Regions from separate parts of the Homo sapiens genome. Here region 2 is linked to region 1. The links come from fine-mapping of genetic effects on gene expression. A gene starts in region 1. The other region holds a variant in brackets. All regions are shown on one strand. Distances are from middle to middle.

Region 1 (9,753 bases):
GAGCTGGAGCCAGTCCCTGGAGCCCAGCGCTGAGCTCTTTGTGATGGAGGGGTGGGGTGAGCCGCAGGATCTAGGTCACCGTGCTCTGGCCCTGCTCTCTGCCTTTCGCAAGCGCTTGCTCCCGTGGGATGTTTGTCATGCTTCCATGCATGACACAGGAGAATATCAACATTGGTGCCATTTCACATCTCTTCATTCATCTGCTATTCTTCCACCTTCAGCTTCTCATAAAATCACAGAACTGCAGTGAGGACCTCTGCCTGCCGGGACAGCCTGGGGATGGTCCCGTGCAGCCCCCTCAGGCAGCATCCCTGTGGAGGGTTCCCCTCCGCCCCCTACCGTGGGGAGCTCTTCCCAGCTGAGTCACACTGCACGCCTGGTCCCTACCCTGGGCTGCTCTCTGTGTTATCTTGCAGGCGCCGTCCCAGATCCTTCAGGGGACTCTGAAGGCCCATCAGATGTGGCTGCAGACCCACCTCCCTCAGACCCTCAGCTCTGGATCCAGGCTGGCTCCCTGCCGTGGAGCACAGGCGCCCTTTGTAGCACTCACTCCAGCTGCCCAGGGAATCGGGGACTTGGTGTGGACTGAGACTCAGCCCCCTTGAAGCCCTATTCTGTCCACCGCTGCAAGACATAGGCGGCTTTAAGCAGGACCAGGCCGCACCCTCCAGGCAGAGACAGCTGCTGTGGGTTCTGTGCTCTTCTAATGGGCATGTCTTCCCATCGGTGATGAGGACTGATTTGTGCAGTGACCCCCTTACATTTTTCTGAAAAGGAGATCAAGGAAAACATTCTTCAGTAGAATCCTCACTGTGCACACACTTCCCCTTGTGCTCGGTGACAGCCACTGCCTTTGGGAGCAGGGAGGACGCCCCAGAACCTCCTGGTCTCCGCACACCCCCCTGAGCTGGGCTGAGCACACAAGCACCCCTCTGCAGACAGTAGAGGTTTTGGGATTCAGAATATGCAGTCTGAAGCTCCCCAGAGCCTGGCTCTTTAGTCAGGCCCTCCTTGCCCGCCCTGTGAATCCACGCCTAGGAGCCTGTGCCCCCACCCAGCAGGAGCTGATGCTGCTGAGCTTCCCAGGTGCCAGACAGGGGCTGAGTGTGGGGGCCAGGGAGCCAGTCGGGAGTCTGCTGCCTGGCAGGCCATGTCCTGCAGAAGAGAGGCCAGCATAGGGCACGGTGGGCCTGGAGGGGCTGGAGACAGTGCTGCTGGGTCGGCAGAGCTAGAGAAGGGCAGCCCAGGCAGGGGGCACACTAGTGCCAAGGTGCAGGGGCATGAAGCTGCAGGTCACACGGCCTCCCTCGGAGCCCCCAGGTACTGGGGGTGGGTTCAAATCTCACAGGGTTGGCGGGCGAGGGCTTCAGGAACAGCAGGGACAGGAGCATGAGAGCAGTAGAAAAATGCAGGGGTCAGGAGGATCATCTGGGACCCACCAGGTTGCTGGTGAATTCAGGGGATAGAAGGGATGTGAGCTCAGGCCTCGAGCAGCTGCCTGATTGGGACAGCCCCTGGCTGGGCCGCGACCAGGTCACAGCACTTTGCAGGAGTCAGGCCTGGGCTCCACGGTCGTGGGTTCTAGTCTCGGCTGTTTAGTCTCAAGCAGATCTCCACCGCGCCCTGACCTCCACTTCCTGCGTCTACTCAGGGTGAAAAAACACCCCATTCCCAGCACAGGTCAGGGTTGCCCGAGTTGATCATGCAGGTAGGCCTGTGGGGCTCTCAGGTGCCTGACACCCTGCATGCATCTTGGCCTCTTCCCTCATCCTCAGCCTCAGATGGACTGAGCCATCTGGAACCTGTCAGTGGTGGCCTCAGCCCTAACTGCAGATGACAGGCTTGGGAGTGTGGCGACATGTGTCACCTGGAGCAAACTGCTCCCCCTCTGAAGCCTGTCACCCACAAGACCTGCTCCCAAGGGCCAATGGCAGGTGCCTTATTCTTTCGTCGCCATCACCGTTGCCACCTCCCCACCAGCTCCATCCTTCTCCGGGTCCCAGCCCTGGGGCGCTCACTCCCCTGTGTGCTGAGGGAGGCCCAGCATGGTTCAAATGCAGCCTCTGGAGAATTTCTTCACTAAGAGGCTTTTTCTGAAAAGAGTCAAGCTATTTGTAGCCCAAGTTGGTTGAACAGATTTTTCTTGGTGTAGCTTATTTTTTTATTCATTAACTTCTTTTCCTTATGAATTAAAAAATAGCATTTTTTTTTCCACAAAGGAGTGCTTTATTTACTTCTTTTTGTACCACAGCCAGCGCTTCCTCTGCCTGCTGGGGAAAGTGGATGCACACACCCACTTTGGCAGGCAGTTTTCTTTCAAGCCATGGCATCTTGGAGAGGTAAGTGTGTGTGTTCAGACCACTGCCCTGTGGCTCCAGCCCCCCTGATATCAGCCACAGCCCCAAGGCTTGGGTGTTGTTTGTTTGTTTTTTCATTTTTTTTGAGACAAGGTCTCACTCTGTTGCCCAGGCTGGAGTGCAGTGGCACCATCACGGCTCACTGCATGCAGCCTCAAACTCCCAGGCTCAAGTGAGCCTCTGGCCTCAGCCTCCTGAGTAGCTGAGACTACAGACTCATGCCACCACAGCCAGTTTTTTTTTTTTAATTTTTAATTTTTATAGAAACGGGGTCTCACATTCTTGCCCAGACTGGTCTCAAACTCTTGGCCTCAAGTCATCCTCCCACCTTGGCCACCGAAAGTGCTACAATGATAGGCGTGAGCCACCAGGCCTGCCTGGTTGGCTTTTTGGTGAACAGGAGCATAATAAGGGTTTCACTGGGCTGTCAGCCTCCATTGTGGTGGCCAGTATCTCAAAGCCTCACCTGGCAGAACTGGAGACGCGTCTGCTGACCGATGCCCTCATGACCCATTTTCCTGACTTCAGAAATGTCCCATGCAGACACTATGCCATCCAGCAGGCCTCCCAGCTAGACAGGGTGCAGCCTCGATGTGTCTGTGGAGGGACTCGGGCTGTCCCTGCACTCACAGTCATGGTGACCAAAGTCCCAGAGTAAGGGAGCAGATGCCGCTTCCCCCTTCCAGCCCAGGCATTTTACATGAGGCGCTGACCCAGGACCACCCTTGACTTCACTCTTCCAAGGAGTGGCTCCCAGTCCTATATATTCCATCAGCCTCCAGGCTGGCTGTCCCTTAAACACTGGTCTCCAATCTAACTGCATTTCTGTAAGTAATCTTTTGGGACAGACTTTTTTAAAAAAGATCATGTTTATGCCGTATTCCTCATCTTTCTTGTCTTCTATCTCCAGATTTGTTTTAAAACCTATTACTCCTGTATACATGTGCCTCCCACCCTTTGAGCTATGCCCTTGACCTGCTATGCACTTGTCTCAAGGCCAAGTTCAAACCCCCTAACCCAAGGCTGTCCAGAGCTGCCCTGCCACCTGAGCCATGGGGAGGGGCGCTGAGCTGGTGCCTTTCACAGGCTGCCTGCCTCCCCCTGGGCAGGGCTCCTGTCTCTCCTCCTTTGTCTCCACAAGCACAGGCTTGCATGGGTCAGCACGTGGTGAACAGCCAACCATCATTTTCCAATTCTTTCCAAAAAGTCCTGTCTATGCTCAGAAGTCCTGCCTGGCCCTTTGAGTGCCCCTACCCCCACACACACATTCTTTTTTTTTTTTTTTTTTTTTTTTTTTTGAGACGGAGTCTGGCTCTTTGGCTCAGGCTGGAGTGGAGTGCAGTGGTGCGATCTCGGCTCACTGCAACCTCCGCCTTCTGAGTTCAAGTGATTCTCCTGCCTCAGTCTCCTGAATAGCTGGGACTACAGGCATGTGCCACCATGCCTAGCTAATTTTTTGTATTTTTAATAGACGGGGTTTCACCGTGTTAGCCAGGATGGTCTTGATCTCCTGACCTCAACACACATTTCTTTATCGAAATTCCAAATTCTCCAAAGCTCAGAAACATAAAGGTTTTTCAAAACTCAGTGGCAAAGCTGGACCTGAACGATGCGCCATCACTTACTGTCTTTATTTCTTCCAGTTCACCTGAATACATATGTTTTGCCCCGAAAATATAAATGGGTCTGATTATGAGGAGCAGCCCCAGGTTCCAAAGAGGTGCCACATAATGTATGATGTATACAAAAAAGCCTGAGTTCCAAACACATCTTGGATGAGAGGTTGGGACTGTGGGGGATCCCTACACTGGTTAGAGTTCTAGACCCAGAGCAGGGTTATGGTCAACGGCGCTCTGGCCACAGAATGCAGCAGAGCAAGGACTGTGGAACAAAGACGCGGCTTACATGAATTTTTCACTTACCGTGCTGGGTGCTGGTGATTCAGAGATGGAAAGGCCCTAGCGACACCCCCCTCCACCCAGGGAGCCCACGGGCCAGCAGAGGGACCAAGGGGCACAGGACGGGTGGGGAGCAGAGGCGGATTCCCTGGCTGTGGAGGTACTGTCTATACGGGGTGCAGGAGACATCTCCATACAAGGGGGCCCTCACCTGGGGAGGTGGTGACCGCAAGCCTGACAGCCCCAAAGCCTTCAGAGATGCCGCCTGGGGACACTTTGGGAAAGTCCAGGCGGAGGACACCTGGGAATGTGATAGTGACACAAATGACCGGAGAGACTTGCTCTCAGTCACTGAGTCTGGCTGACTCACTGAAGATTAGGGCCTGAACTTCCCCCTCTGTAAATGGGGTGCAGGCCCTGGCCCTGCCTTCACAGTGCCCCTCGGTCCCCTACAAGCCTTCTCCGCAGGGTGGGATCGGGTCTGCCTGGAGCATCCCCACAGCCTATGGGTCAGCAGAGAAGCAGGCGCAGAGCTGGGGTGAGACGGTCAGGGCCGGTCCTGCCAGACACCTCAGATCACTCCTCTTCACAAATAATCCCATTTTACAGCCCAGGAAGAGAGAGGCCGGACCACTGCCCAAAAGCCTGTGGCCTACAGCCTGCCAGGTGCGTCTGCTCGCAGAGCAGGTCTGCGCAGCACCGAGCGGTCAGCAGGGGCAATGCTGGGCACTGGCCAGCCGCGCCAGGACCATCCCTGCTGACCTCGGCGGGGTGGGGCGGAGCGTGCAGGGTCTGGCCCGGAAAGCCAGGGCAGGCTTTAGAGAAGGGCCACCGGACGGATGGTCCGAGGACCGGCATGGACCCGGGTCCCAGCGAGGGCGGGGGGAGCGTAAGGCTGGGCCTGGGCTGCGGCACCGGGGAGGTGGCGGGGAGGAGGCCGGCAGGAACAGCCGTGCAGGGCGGGGGCGGCGCGGGTCTGGTCGGGTGACCCCGGGCGCGGCCAGGGCTGTAGGAGGCGAGGGCGTCGCCCCGAGGCCGTGGTCTCGGGTCCATGGTGGGGGACCTGGGTCCCCGCCCCCCCGGGCCGCCCTGGGTCGCGCGTGGGCGCGGCGGGCGCCGATTGGCTGCCGGGCGCGCGGGCGGAGCGGGCGGCGGCGGCGGCGGCGCGGAGGGGCCGCTCACCCCGCAGCCCGGCCTCGGCCTCCGCCGCTTGTCGTCGCGCCCCGCCCGCGAGCCCGCCCCGCACGTCCCCCGCCGGCGGCCACCATGAGCACAGGCCTGCGGTACAAGAGCAAGCTGGCGACCCCAGGTGAGCCCAGCGCCTGCCCGCGTGCCCGCGCGCGCCTTTGTCCCCGCCGCCCGCGCGCCTCTCACCGTGTCTCTCCGTCTCTCCCCCGCCCGCCGGCCCGGACCCGCTCGGAACCGGACCCGGACTCGACCCCGACCCCGACCCCGCAGAGGACAAGCAGGTACGTGCGCAGCGCCGCTCCCCCGCCGGGAGACCCGGCCGGCTGTCACCCATTGTGACACTAGCGCCTTGGGCGCCCAGGCGCGACCCCGCCCCCGCCGGCCCTCACCCAGCCCTGTCGCGATCACCGATTGTCAGCCGGGCAGTGCCGCCGCGCCTGGGGCTTCAGAGGAGAGGAGTGGGGGCCCTGGTCCCCGGACCCGCACAGCAGGGACCCTGCGCCCCTCCCCAGGATGGGGGGATGGGCAGAGTGTCCCCCTCCCACAGGGCCAGTGCCAGCATCTCCTGCTGACCTGGCCTGTAGGCCATGAGCTGGGGGTCCTGGGTGAGGCCATGGTCGTGGCAGGCCACGCTGGGGGAGGGGAGTCAGGCTCCATCAGCCAGCACAGTCCCTGAACAGCCCTACAGCAGAGGGCCTGTGGTCACCACCCACCTCCCCTGCACCTTCATGCCCCTTTCCCTCCCCATACACAAATTTGAGTGTTCAGGTCTGCAACAGGGACTCTTCCCCAGATTGGGAACCCCCAGGGTCTGGTCTGAGTCATTCTGGGTGCCCAGATGGGTCCTGGGACCCTGTGGGTACAAATAGGCTTGTGGCTTCTCAAAAGGGTTGGCCCCACCCTCCAGGAAAGCAAGACTGGACAGGAGGCTGGTCTAGGCACCTGGGTGAAACCCAGCCGAGCTCAGGGTTAAACAATGCTGTGAGGCCCCTGGGGTGGGGCGGGGGCTGACAACCAGGTGGGCTGGGGGGGCTGGGGAAAGCCTGCTGGTGTCCTCTCTGGCTTGAGCTCAGCCATCTTTGGAGGAAAAAAGAAGAGCCCAATTCTGGCACCAGGGTGGCACTGGCAGCCCCCATCAGGGATGGAGTTTCTCAGGAGCCATGGATGCTGAGTGGAACTCCAGAGTCCTGGCCCAGGGTGCAGCAGGCAGGGCAGGAGGGCGGGCAGGGGGGCCAGGAGCTGGGGGAGTCACTGGCTGACCAGTGCCATTCTCCTGGAAGGGACACACCCCACCCAGAGGTGGATGAGGCTCTCTGGGAGGGGCCCCTTGGGGAGCCAGGCTGGGAGCTGCCTCCCCATCACAGCAGGTCAGACAAAGCCTGAGATGCAGGGACACATGCGTCAGGCTACTGTTTGAGGGAAATGGAAGGAACTGAGGCTGGGAAAGCCAGGAGGCCAGGCCCCTGAGGCTTCTCCTGTGCCTGCAGGTGTCCCCAGCTTGACCCAAGGGCACTCTGAGACCCTGGGCTCCAGCCACTGCTGTTGGGTGCAGCCAGGTTCTCTTGCCCATTACTGCAGGGTGGGGACCCCCTCCTGCTGAGGTGCCCATCGTTTGAGGTCAACCGGGAGTCCACCTCACCCCATCCCAGGCCTCCCAGGCCTCCAAGCCCAGAGGAAGAAGGCACTGTGTGGCCAAGGAAGGGAGCCCCGGAGCAGGAGCCAGGCCAGGTGTCTGGGTGACCAGTGGGTCTGGGGGAGCTGGAAGCACATGGCAGCTTCCCTGCTACCACCGTTGCTGAGCCTCAGCCTGTCCAAGCATTCTTTTTGCTCTTTGAAAGGGGGCTGTAGAGGCATTGGGGGAGTTCCGTCACTACGCTCTGTGCCCCCACCTCCTCACAGGCAGCACCGGTGATCTCTTGGCCCTGGCTGCTGCTCCCAGAGCTGACTCGGGTGATTCTAAGAATGGAAGTGCCAGAGAGGCTCAGGCATTGGGAGGAGATGGGCGCAGCTGTGTCATATGGCTCAGGAAGCCCTGGGAGTATCTTTTGTCACTTGGGGACCAGAGAAAGGGGGTGGCAGGTACGGCCCCTTCCTTGAGGCTCCCCCAGGGAATCCACAGGCCCTGACTGGGCCCCAGTGGGTGGCAGGGCAGGTGGGTTGAACGCTGAGAGTGAGATTCTTGCCCTCCTGACCTGGGCCTCCCCAGAGGCTGTGCCTTACCAATGGGGAAACTGAGGCAGGCAGTCTGAGAGCCACACACTCTGTTAGACACCTCCTAGCCTGAGGCCTAGGCCCAGGGCTGTCTGTCTTCCTGGAGATGCCCTGGGCCTGAGATGCCAGCCTGTCTGGGTGGGTGCTGGGCTTCGAGGTGTGGACCCTCAGTTGGAAACTGGGTGGGACTCAGCCTAGAGGCTTCCTGCAGGTCAGGGCCATGGAAGGCTGGGGCCAGTGAGGAGGCTTTCTGGCAGCAAGGACTGAGGGATGCACTGGTAGAGCTGGGGGGCCTGGAGCTGCCCCCTTTCCCTGGGATGAAAGGCTCTCCTGTTCCCAGCTGTGGGCCTGCCCCTCCTCCCCAGGTGCCAGTGGTCCAGGCCCCACAACAGGACCAGGGCCTGGACAGGAAGTGGAGGAGGTCTCTCAGCCAGGAGAGCCTAAGGGAGGGCTGGTGGCGGGTGGGGTGGGGTGGGGTTGGGGCCTCCAGCTTCTAATGTTCTAATGTGCAGGGGCTTGGCCTGACCAGTCCTACCCTGGAACCTTTCCAGGCCCCATGTCCTGCTCCGCTGGGCTTGCCTGTTGGGATTCTACTGGGGTCATGGAGGTGGGTGGCCCACAGAGCGGAGCTCGGGAGACCCCCGCAGTCCCTGGAGTAGCCACATGGGAGGGAGGCCCGGCTGGCAGGAGCTCCCAGTCCCTCCAATCCTGTGGGTCAGAGCTGGTGAGGATGCTCAGAGGGCAAGGGAATGTCCACAGAAGCACGTGGGAGATGGGTCCCATCCCACCCCCACCCCTGTCTCTGAGGGCAGGGCCACCTGAGGGCTGCAGGGCAGCGCATGGGTGGCCGGCGTTTATTCAGCAGGCTGGCGGGGGCTTCCAAGTTTTGCAGGGACCTCCAGTACTCCGGCAGCCTGCACCCTTCCTTTCCCTTCCCTTCCCTTCTGTCCACCCTAAGCCTCCTAGGGGACAGGCAGGCTGGACTTCAGAAAAGGTGGGCTCTGCCCTCCTCCGGTCCCCCGAATGTCTTGGGAAAGAGTCCACCAAACACACATGCACACACCCGCGCACACGCACATACCCAATGCATGCACACACGTACACACACACGCATACACGCATGTATACACGCGCACACACGCAGGCATTACACACACACACATTACACACACACACCCGCACGGACGCGCACACACAAACGCGCGCACGCACGCACGCACGCACGGGGGAGGTCAGCCCCAAGCAGGGCTGGGGAGGGGTGCAGGGCGCGGCGTGTCTGTGGGCACTTGGGGCGTCGAGACGCCGCCGGGAGGTTTTCGGGCAAGTCTGCGAGAAGACGGCGGGCCCTGAACTGGGCGGGTACCCGCGCTGTTGCGCGTGGGTCCCGGGAGCGGCCTCCGGCGCCCTCTGGCGGGCGGAAGCCGCGCAGCACCTCTTGGGGGCGGGACGCGCGGTGGCTACCGACTCCCGGCCCGCCCCGGCCCGCGTGCAGGACCCGGTCGTCCCCTCCTGCTGTCCTGGAGCCCGGACTGAGGCCCCGGGGGCGCGGCAGGGCTCCCGGTCCACGCGAGCCATGGCCCGACCGCGCCTCGGCTCAGCCCTGCCCTCCGCAGCCGCTTTCGGGTGGCTCCGCCCGCGGCCCAATTTCCAGGCGACCGTTTCCCGGCGACGGCGGGCGGGGCCGTCTCTGCCGCCCCCCGCCGCGCGCTCCGCGGGCGCCTGCGACGCCCCGCCTCTGGCTCGGGTGCGGGAGCGGGGCCTGCCCGGACTGCGACGCCGCCACAGCTTGGGGCCAGTTCGCCCAGTCAGGGGGATGGCTCGGTCGGCCTCGGGGGTCGACGATCCCCCGGGTAGGCGACGTGCCCTGTCCAGGCCTCACTTCCCGCGTCCGCAAAACGGGGTGGACAACGCAGCCTAAGGCAGAGCCGCGCCAAGGTCCCTCGCTGTCGCCGGGCTCTGGCGGCCTGACCGGGCCTGGGGTCCGAGCGTGCCCCCGGGCCTGGGGGGGTCGCCGCGATGGACTCGCTGGCAGCGCCCCAGGACCGCCTGGTGGAGCAGCTGCTGTCGCCGCGGACCCAGGCCCAGAGGCGGCTCAAGGT
Region 2 (9,753 bases), 26 kb before region 1:
ACAAAGGAAACAGAAACAAAAAACAGGGAGCAAACAGAAAACAGATCAGAATAAAATGGTACAATTGCTGGGTGCAGTGGCTCAAGCCTGTAATCCCAGCACTTTGGGAGGCTGAGGTGGGAGGATCATGAGGTCAGAAGATCAAGACCATCCTGGCTAACACGGTGAAATCCTGTCTCTACTAAAAATACAAAAAATTAGCCGGGCGTGGTGGCGGGCACCTGCAGTCCCAGCTACATGGGAGGCTGAGGCAGGAAAACGGCGTGAACTCGGGAGGTGGAGCTTGCAGTAAGCCGAGATCGCACCACTGCACTCCAGCCTGGGCGACAGAGCAAGACTCCGTCTCAAAAATAAATAAATAAATAAATAAATAAAATGGCACAATTATATCCTAACATATCAATAATTACATTAAATGTAAATGTCTTAACTCACCAATTAAAAGAGATTGGTAAGATGGATTTTAAAACATGTATCAACTATATACTATCTACAAGAAATTCACTTCAAGATGTTTCACACAGATATTAATCAAAGGAAAGCAGGAGTGGCTATATTAGTATCAAATGAGGCAGACTTCAGGGCAAAGAAACTTACCAGGGATAAGACTGACATGCAATAATAAAAGGGTCAATGCAACAAGAATGCATAGTAATCCTAAACATTTATCTAACAAACAACAGAACTGCAAAATATATACAACAAAAAGGGATAGAACTGAAAGGAGAAATAGACAAATCCACTATTGTGGTTGGATACGTCAACACTCCTCTCTCAACAATTGATAGATCAACTAGACAGAAAATCAGCAAGAAAATAGAAGCACGCAATGATATCGTCAACCAACAGGATCTAATTGACATTTATTGAACACTTTATTCCAACAGCAGATTATCCTTTCTTTCCAAGTGCCCACGAAACATATACCAATATAGACCATATTCTGGGGCACAAAACAAACCTTAACAATTTTCTAAAAATTGAAATCACATGGTGTGGGTTCTCCAAACACAATGAATTCAAACTACAAATCAACAGAAAGATAACAGAAAAACCTCCAAATACTTGAAAACTAAACCACTCATTTATAAGTAATCCATGGGAAAAAGGAGTTTCAAGAGATATTTTAAAAAATACATTGAGCTGAATGAAAATGGAGTACAAATGTCAAAACACAGAAAAAGCATTGTGGATGGGGAAAATTTATAGCATTAAACACATATATTAGAAAAGAGGAAAAGTCTCAAATCGATAAGCTCAAAAACCTCAAGAAACTAGGAAAAGAAGAGCAAAATAAACCCAAGGCAAGCAGAAGGATGAAAATAATAAAAGATAAGGGCAAAAATTAATAAAATCCTTATAAAAATAATAGAGAAAATCAATGAAAGAAAGAGCTGATTGTCTTTTTTTGTGGGGGGAGGGGGACGGAGTCTTGCTCTGTTGCCCAGGCTGGAGTGCAGTGGCGCAATCTCGGCTCACCGCAAACTCCACCTCCCAGGTTCAAGCGAGTCTCCTGCCTCAGCCTCCCGAGTAGCTGGGACTACAGGCACGCACCACCACGCCCAGCTAACTTTTGTATTTCAGTAGAGACGAGGTTTCACCATATCGGCCAGGCTGGTCTTGAACTCCTGACCTCGTAATCCTCCTGCCTCAGCCTCCCAAAGTGCTGGGATTACAGGTATGAGCCACTACACCCAGCCAAAAGCTGATTCTTTGAAAGGTCAATAAAACTGACAAAACTCTATCAATACTGACCAAAGAAAAAAAAAGACATAGATTACCAATATCAGGAATGATAACTCTACTCTATACATATAAATTTGACAACTTGGATGAAATGAACCAATTTCTTGAAAAATACAAACTACCACAACTTACCCAATATGAAAAAGATAATTTGAATAGGGAATTTAATTAATAATTTTAGAACTCCTAAAAAAAGAAATCTCCGGACTCCTATCGTTTAAATAGATAATTCTATCAAATCTTTAAAGAAAAATTTATCACCACTGTTCCAGAAAATAGGTGAGGAAAGAAGACTTTCCAATTTGTTTTATGCAGCTGGAATTACAGTGATACCAAAACCAGACAAAGATAGTAGAAAAAAAGAAAATCTCAGAAAAATATCCCTCATGAATATAGACCAAGAAAATATTTAATAAAATATTAGCAAATAGAATTCAGCACTACATACAAATAATTGTACACCATTACCAAGTGGAGTTTACTCCTGGAATGGATGACTGGTTAAACATTCAAAAAGCAAACAATGTAATCCACTGAATTCACAGGCTAACAAAGAAAAATCATATCAATTGATGCACAAAAAGCATTTGACAAAAATCGGCTGGGCATGGTGGCTCACGCCTGTAATTCCAGCACTTTGGGAGGCTGAGGAGGGTGGATCACGAGGTCAGGAGATCGAGACCATCCTGGCTAACATGGTGAAACCCCATCTCTACTAAAAATACAAAAAATTAGCCAGGCGTGGTGGCGGGTGCCTGCAGTCCCAGCTACTTGGGAGGCTGAGGCAGAAGAATGGTGTGAACCCGGGAGGCGGAGCTTGCAGTGAGCCGAGATCATGCCACTGCACTCCAGCCTGGGCGACAGAGCAAGACTCCGTCTCAAAAAAAAAAAAAGCATTTGACAAAATTCAACACTCATTCATAACAGAAATTCTAAAACTAGGAATAAAGGGGGAACTTTGTCAACTTTGTAAAGGGCACCTATAAAATACCTATAGCTAATGTGATACTCTTTTTTTTTTTGAGATGGAGTCTCACTCTGTCACCCAGGCTGGATGGAGTGCAGTGGCGTGATCTCAGCTCACTGCAAGCTCCACCTCCTGGGTTCACGCCATTCTCTTGCCTCAGCCTCCCAAGTAGCTGGGACTACAGGTGCCCACCACCACACCTGGCTAATGTTTTGTATTTTTAGTAGAGACATGGTTTCACCATGTTAGCCAGGATGGTCTCGATCTCCTGACCTTGTGATCCATCCGCCTCGGCCTCCCAAAGTGCTGGGATTACAGGCTTGAGCCACCGCGCCTGGCCAGCTAATGTGATACTTGATGGTGAAAACTAAGTTCTTTCCTTCCAGGATCCAAAGAGAAGATGCCTGCTCTCACCACTCTTACTCAGCACAGAGCTGGGAGTTCTAGCCAGTACAATAAGGCAAGAAAAGGAAATAAAAGGCACACAGACAGGAAAGGAAGAAACAAAACTGCCCTCATTTACAGATAACATGATTGTCTCTGCATAGAAAATTCCAAGGAATCTACCCTCAAAAAAGCCCTCCTAGAACTAATAAGTGAGTTTAACAAGGTCGCAAGACATAAGATAAACGATCAAAAGTCAATTCTATTTCTACATGCTAGCAACAAACACATGGGCACTGACATTAAAAATACAATACCATTTAAAATCCCTCAAAAAATGAAACACTTAGGTATAAATCTAACATATATAGAACATAGGTATGTGCTGTGCACTGGTAGCCTCAGCTACTCAGGAGGCTGAGAGGGGAGGATCACTTGAGCACAGGTGTTCAAGGCTGCAGTGAGCTATGATCTATGCCACTGGACTCCAGCCTGGGTGACAAAGTGAGACCTCATCTCTAAAAAGATTTAAAAAATTAAATTAAGTTTAAAAATGCAGAATTTGAACACTGAAAACTATACAATACTGATAGGAAAAAAAAGAATTGAAGTTTTTATTGATCCCTGCAACAACTGGCATAAATCTTCAAAGAATTATGCTAAGTGGAAAAAGCCAGGCCTGAAGGATGATATACTATATGATTCCATGTCCACTTACATAACACTGTTGAAATCAACATTCTAGAAATGGAAGACACATCAGCCATTGCTGGAGGTTAGGAAAGGGCTTCGGTGGGAGGGAGGTGCGTGTGACCGTAAAAGGGCAGCAGGAGGGAGTCTCTGGTGACAGAAATATCCCGTATCTTGACCGTACCAGTGTCAGCATCCAGGCTATGATGTCCTACCGTTGCAAGATGGTACCATTGGGTACAAGGGACCTCTCTGTGTTATTTCTTACAGCTGCCTGTGAATCTACAATGATCTCCACAGAAAAAATTCAATTAAAAAATATTTTAAAGCACATAACAGGCAGTCATGTGTAATTTGGGTCACGTAGAACAAGTCTGGATCATGAAGTCTGTGAGGCTGGTGTACACTTAACTGAGAGTGTGTCTAGCTTTAAACCGGTATCTGCATTTAAAAAAAAAAAAAAAGGCAGAGTCGGGGGCCACTCTCAGAGAGCACTATTAGGTGCTCACCGGCAGAACCCAGACATTGCATTTTCAAAGCTTTTAAGCTTTTCAGCTGCACTCTGAGGAACCGGCTATTGATCTGTGTCCTTGGTGCACAGCCCTTGCACTTCTTTCTGCCCCCACGCCCTGCGGCCCCTCTCGGCTCTGAACAGGGGCCCTGCTCTCTGGGACTCCACATCCCTGCAAAATTTGTCTCCCCTTCCCTGGGTTCCTCCCCCGGGGCTGAGCTGAGGACAAGGGCCTGGCCTCCTCCTTGGAGAACCCCACAGCACCCTGCATTTCGGCGTGGTCCATGGGCTCTTCTCAGGGGCTCCTCACGTTGTGCAAAGGGGTAAGGGAGCAGGGCCAGCTGCAGATCTCCCTCCCGCTGTGACAAGGACATCCTAGTCGAAGAGCCCGTTTATCTTCGCTCTTAAGGCCAGGCTCTCTCAGGTCATTGTTGCCAAAGAAATGAATTGCAGCACAGCTCCGCAGGTCCCTGCACAACTGGGGCAAGGGCTGGCACTGGGCCAGC[G/A]GGAACCTGTTGGGGAGGCTGCAAGGTGCTTCTCTGCATCCAAGGCTGCCACACCCTGTGCACACTGTGGAGCTGGGTGGATGGGGTGTGCTCAGGAGGGGCTCTCGGCCCTCGGCTGGGAGTCAGAGGCGTGGTGGGTGGGGCGGGGAGGGGTGTCACAGCTGCAGGGCAGCCTTGATGTCTGCACTTGGCTTTTTAATTTGTAGTCACAGCCAACAAGTGTGGAAACCGCCTCAGGACCGGCTTGAGTGGAGCGGCTGCGGGAGTTACTTCATGACTGTGGTCTCACGCTGTGTTTCGCCACCCATCCCTGCCTGGCCTGGCTTCCTTCCTTCCTCCTGGGTACGTTGGCCCTTGGCTCTCTCCTCATTAACTGGCCCCTCGGACCCCGGCTGGCCAGCTGTCTGCAGCCTCCTGGGTGACACCTTCACCCCTGCCTCCTCGGGGGTCTGCTGCCGCCACATCAATCTCCCTAACACCCTGGGCATGCCACCCCTCTGGAGACCTCCCTAGTCTCTCTCGCAGGGCCCCCAACCTGCTCAGCCCAGGCCCACTGCCCTCTCCCTGCCCGGACACGTGCTCCCGTGGCCCGGCCGTGCCTGCCCACACACCTGCCCTCTCTGAGGTTCACATGTGGCATCCAGGGGCCCTTCCCCAACAGCTCTGCCTGGTGCAGCCTCCCCCTCAGCCTCCTCTTCCCCCCGAGCAGGGTTTGCAGAGGCCCAGAGGCTGCCGGGATGAGTAGATGTTGGGATCCTGCTTACTGGGCGTGTCTTATCCCCCAGAGCAATGGCCTTGGAGGTCAGGGACCCAGCATGGCCATGCTGGCTTGGGGTTTAGGAGCTGTCTCACCAGAGCCCCGCCTCAGCCCACAGCCCCGGGCCTGTTTCCTTGAAGGCTCCCCAGAGCCCCATGCCTGGTTTTCTGGCCAGAGCCCTTGGCAGTGACCCCTGCTCTCCGCCTGCAGCTCTGGGCGTCCTCTCAGCCCCAAGCCCTGATAGGTGCCCCCTGTCTCTGTGCCTGCAGCCTTCAGGAGTGGCCCACACATTGGCTTTTATCTCTGGGCTCTCTGTCACCTCCTCTCCCTCCTGCCACCCTCTGCTCACAGGCTGCGGGTGTGGGGCATCCAGGAGCTGGCCGGTGGAAAGAGGAGCAGGTGCCCTTACGCAGTGGGGAGCAGACACACTTGTGCTGCTTTTCCCTTGGGGCTTGGGGTGGCCACTGGGGCAGGACATGAGGACAGACCAGCCCTCGTCCCCCCAGTGCAGGGGGCAGATCTCACTGCCAGGTGAAACCCTGCTGACCATCCATGTGGACCCCTCAGCTTGGCTGGATGCAGGAGGTGGTTGCACAGTTGCAGGTGGGGCATGGAGGGAGTGGAGCAGCCCCTTACCCCAACACAGGCCCCATTCCTGCTTAACCGGATGTTCCGAGGAGAAGCACAGCCCAACAGGTGTGCACAGGAAGCTCCCATCAGTGCTGTCCTGGGAAAGGCCCATCCTGAATGAAGTGTGTTGCTCAGATCCGAAGAGCGCTGCATCTTCACAGGTCAGGGTGGAAACCTCCTGGTGCACGGCCCGGGAGGGGCACCCGTGGCAGGGCCAGCCCCTGTGAGGCTGCACAGATGAGCTCGAGCAGAGAGTCTGGGGCCGGCCACATCCCACGTCCGACCCTGAGCTGGGGCCCTGGGGGAGCCCCTGTGGCTTTCGTACCAGCCACGCCTGTATGTAGAGAGCTGAGTGTCTGCTGTGGAAGACCACGAGTCACATGGCAGACATGGGCACTCGGCCCAGGCGATGCTGACCCATCCATCAGCTCCTACAGGACCACAAGCTCCCGTTGTGGTGGCCAGAGACTCCCAATGGCCACAGACCCACTCAGGGCTCTCTCTGGGGTCTTCCGGAGAAAAGGAAAGCTCAATGAGCTCCTTAAACCTTTCACTTCAAGTTGTTGCTTTTAAACATTTTGCTTCGTGGCCTTTCTTGCTCCTTCTGTAAAAATCTACATTGTGCTACCATTTTTTTTTTTTTTTGGCAAGGTGTCACTCTGCCACCCAGGCTAGAGTGCAGTGCTGTGATCATGACTCACTGTAGCCTCAAACTCCTGGGCTCAAAGGATCCTCCAGCCTCAGCCTCCCAAGTAGCTGGGACTACAGGTATATCCCACAGCATCCAGCTAATTTTTTGAAAATTTTTTTGGTAGAGATGAGGTCTTACCATGTTGGCCAGGCTGGTCTCAAACTCCTGGGCTCAAGCGATCCTCCTGTCTCGGCCTCCCAAAGTGCTGGGATTACAGGCGTGAGCCACTATGCCCACTCAACATAGTGATTTTCTAACTCCTTCATTTCTTCTCCATTTAGTAGTTGGCTTTCCACCGTAAGGAAAACTGCCCAGTCTCCCCTCTGGCTACCAGTGAAGGCTTGTGGGGTTTTCTTTGATTCGGTGAGTTATATTCAGTGGCTGTGGGGCTTGTTTGGATGCTGGCTGACCGGCCCCGTGTCCCTGTCATGGTGGAGCACGCCCTTGCTTCCTGGCACCACCGCTGCACCCGGCTCAGCCTGCACTTTAACTGCTGCAGCGCTGGAGGCAGCCACTTCCCTGAGGAGCCCTGCTTCCTTTTGTTTGTTTGTTTTTGTTTCTTTGCTTTGAGACGGAGCCTCATTCTGTTGCCCAGGCTGGAGCGCCCTGGCAGGATCATGGCTCTTTGGCTCAGCCTCCCAAGTAGCTGGGACTACAGGTCCCCAACATCATACTTGATTACATTTTTAAAATTGTTTATAGAGATGGGGTCTCATTATGTTGCCCAGGCTGGTCTCAAACTCCTGGGCTTAAGTGATCCTCCTGCCCTGGCCTCCCAAAGTGCTGGGATTATAGGCGTGAGCCACCACGCCCGACCAAGGCCAGCTTTCTTAGAACAGAGTATTTCTTCCACACTGGGGTCCAGGCATGAGTTGTGCTCACTTTACCATGGTATCATTTAGATCCTAGAAAAAAATTATTTGTGAGATTATTATAATATGTATAAATAAATATACAATTAATAATACTATTAAACATCATTGAATTGTGATTATATTATTAATATAGTTGTATTATTAATATGTGATTGTACTATTAATTTTAATTATCGTGTAATTAGTTATAATGCATCCATAATAACTCATACCATGAATTCACAGTCACTCCTAGTCCTGCCCGGCCCTGCAGGCTCCTCCTTGTGTCCGTCATTCCGTATCTGTACCTCCTTCTACAAGAGAGCCCTAACTTCTAACAGCATCACTATGTCTATCATCTATTTAGCCCTCCAAACACACAAGACACTTCCAGAATCTTCTTATTCTCCAGAGGAAAATGTTTCATCAAAACACCAGAGGCAGCCAGCATTTTGACAAGAAAACACAACAAACTTCATTTCTTTGGAAATTTGATCTAGGAAAATGTGTCTCTCTCATTTTGCTAATGGATGTCTGTTTATCAGTCAGAGACCATGAAACGACTCCTTATTTTGAATATCAGATTTTCTTCTTATTCTCAAACCTCAAAACAGCTTGGTAATAATTTATTTGGAAATTATCCGAAAGGTAAAAATAAAAACAGAAGCAAGTAATATGCCTTGTTACTGCTCCTTAATTAGGTAAGAGCCTCATTTCTTGGGCTGCTGGGATGTAAATTCTGCATAAAATGGCTGGCTTTCTTTTTAAGGCTTTGCAGCAGTGTTAACATTCGGCTGCCAACTAAGTCGATTTTAATCGCCTTTACAGGAACCTTCACTTTTTCTGTTTGTTCCATTCCACTCTTTCCTCAGTGGATAATCCCGCATGTTAAGATTCCTGTGCAGCCGAGGGAGGCGGCTTTTGGCCGGGAGCTTGTGCTCTGGGTGTGAGCGTGGCTGTTGGGAACGCCTTCTGCTCAGAATTCCGTGGTCTCAGCAGATCGTTCAGTCTAGCCACTGGGACGGGGCCGACCGCACACTGCTGGACCTCTGAGCGGAAGATGTGTGAGGTTAGGAGGGAAGGAATAAACAAAGTCGCCTTCTTCCCTGCTGACCTGCCTTGGTATGTCACCATTACTCAGCTCCTTACAGAACAGGAGCTTCAAGCTTTCACCGGACAGGCTGGCTTCTTCCCGGGAGCCCCCGCCCAAGGTGGGGCCTGGTGGGGTGGGGCCACCATCGCTGCTGGAAGCTTTAGCTCTTTTCCCTCAGCTTGGCCTCCTTTGGCAACTAATTTTTTAACTTTTTCTAATAGGTAACAGAGTCCCAAGATTCCAAGTTCCAGGAGCATGAAAGGACTCACTTGTGGAGATTCCTGCCTGGGGCTCCCACCCACCTAAGGAATGCCATCCTTGTCACCGGCTCACGGGGCAGCTCTTTGGTATCCTTCCAGGGTGGTGTGTACAAGTACAGGCACATGGATGCATGGATGCATGAGCATTTTTTTCTTTTGCCGACATATTAATACACCCGGCAGCACTCTAGGCCCATTGGCCTGCAACTTTTCATTTGATTGATTTTTAATTATTTACTTTTTTAAAAAATTGTAGTTAAATATACATGACATATATTTACCATTTGAGTCTTTTTTTTTTTTTTGAGATGGAGTCTTGCTCTATCTCCCAGGCTGGAGTGCAGTGGTGTGATCTCGGCTCACTGCAACCTCCACAGCCTGATCCTGGGTTCAAGGGATTCTCCTGCCTCAGCCTCCCGAGTAGTTGGGATTACAGGCGCCTGCCACCATGCCTGGATAATTTTTTTTTCTTTTGAGACGGAGTCTTGCTCTGTCACCCAGGCTGGAGTGCAGTGGTGCAATCTCAGCTCACTGCAAGCTCCGCCTCCCAGGTTCACGCCATTCTCCTGCCTCAGCCTCCCGAATAGCTGCGACTACAGGTGCCCGCCACCACACCGGCTAATTTTTTGTATTTTTAGTAGAGACAGGGTTTCACCGTGTTAGC

Direction of the effects. Alleles are on the strand shown, and positions count from the first base shown. SD is a standard deviation of normalised expression in the study named.
With allele A in place of G in region 2, the expression in whole blood of the gene that starts at base 5,436 in region 1 is higher (small effect, 0.39 SD a copy in GTEx).

Evidence for each region. PIP is the estimated chance that this variant, and not a neighbour inherited with it, causes the effect.
Region 2: its variant is fine-mapped to the expression of SEPTIN5 in whole blood (TOPMed, PIP above 0.99).

Annotation. Positions count from the first base shown.
Region 1 is chr22:19,709,068-19,718,820 of GRCh38, forward strand. It overlaps SEPTIN5 (septin 5), which reads left to right and starts at 5,436. Exons shown (of 12, transcript NM_002688.6): 1 at 5,436-5,564; 2 at 5,714-5,724. The coding sequence starts at 5,522. SEPT5-GP1BB (SEPT5-GP1BB readthrough) reads left to right here and starts at 8,153. Exons shown (of 12, transcript NR_037611.1): 1 at 8,153-9,751. LOC124905079 (a long non-coding RNA gene) reads right to left here and starts at 5,728. Exons shown (of 2, transcript XR_007068003.1): 1 at 5,630-5,728; 2 at 1-767. RefSeq lists enhancers at 1-85, 8,088-8,729, 8,730-9,370, 9,718-9,753 and silencers at 8,786-9,205, 9,216-9,395, 9,372-9,542.
Region 2 is chr22:19,683,133-19,692,885 of GRCh38, forward strand. No RefSeq gene overlaps it. Among named protein-coding and RNA genes, the nearest start is that of SEPTIN5, 26 kb to the right of the region's middle. RefSeq lists enhancers at 5,006-5,854, 8,837-9,396. The variant G/A (reference allele first, on the strand shown) is at 4,805.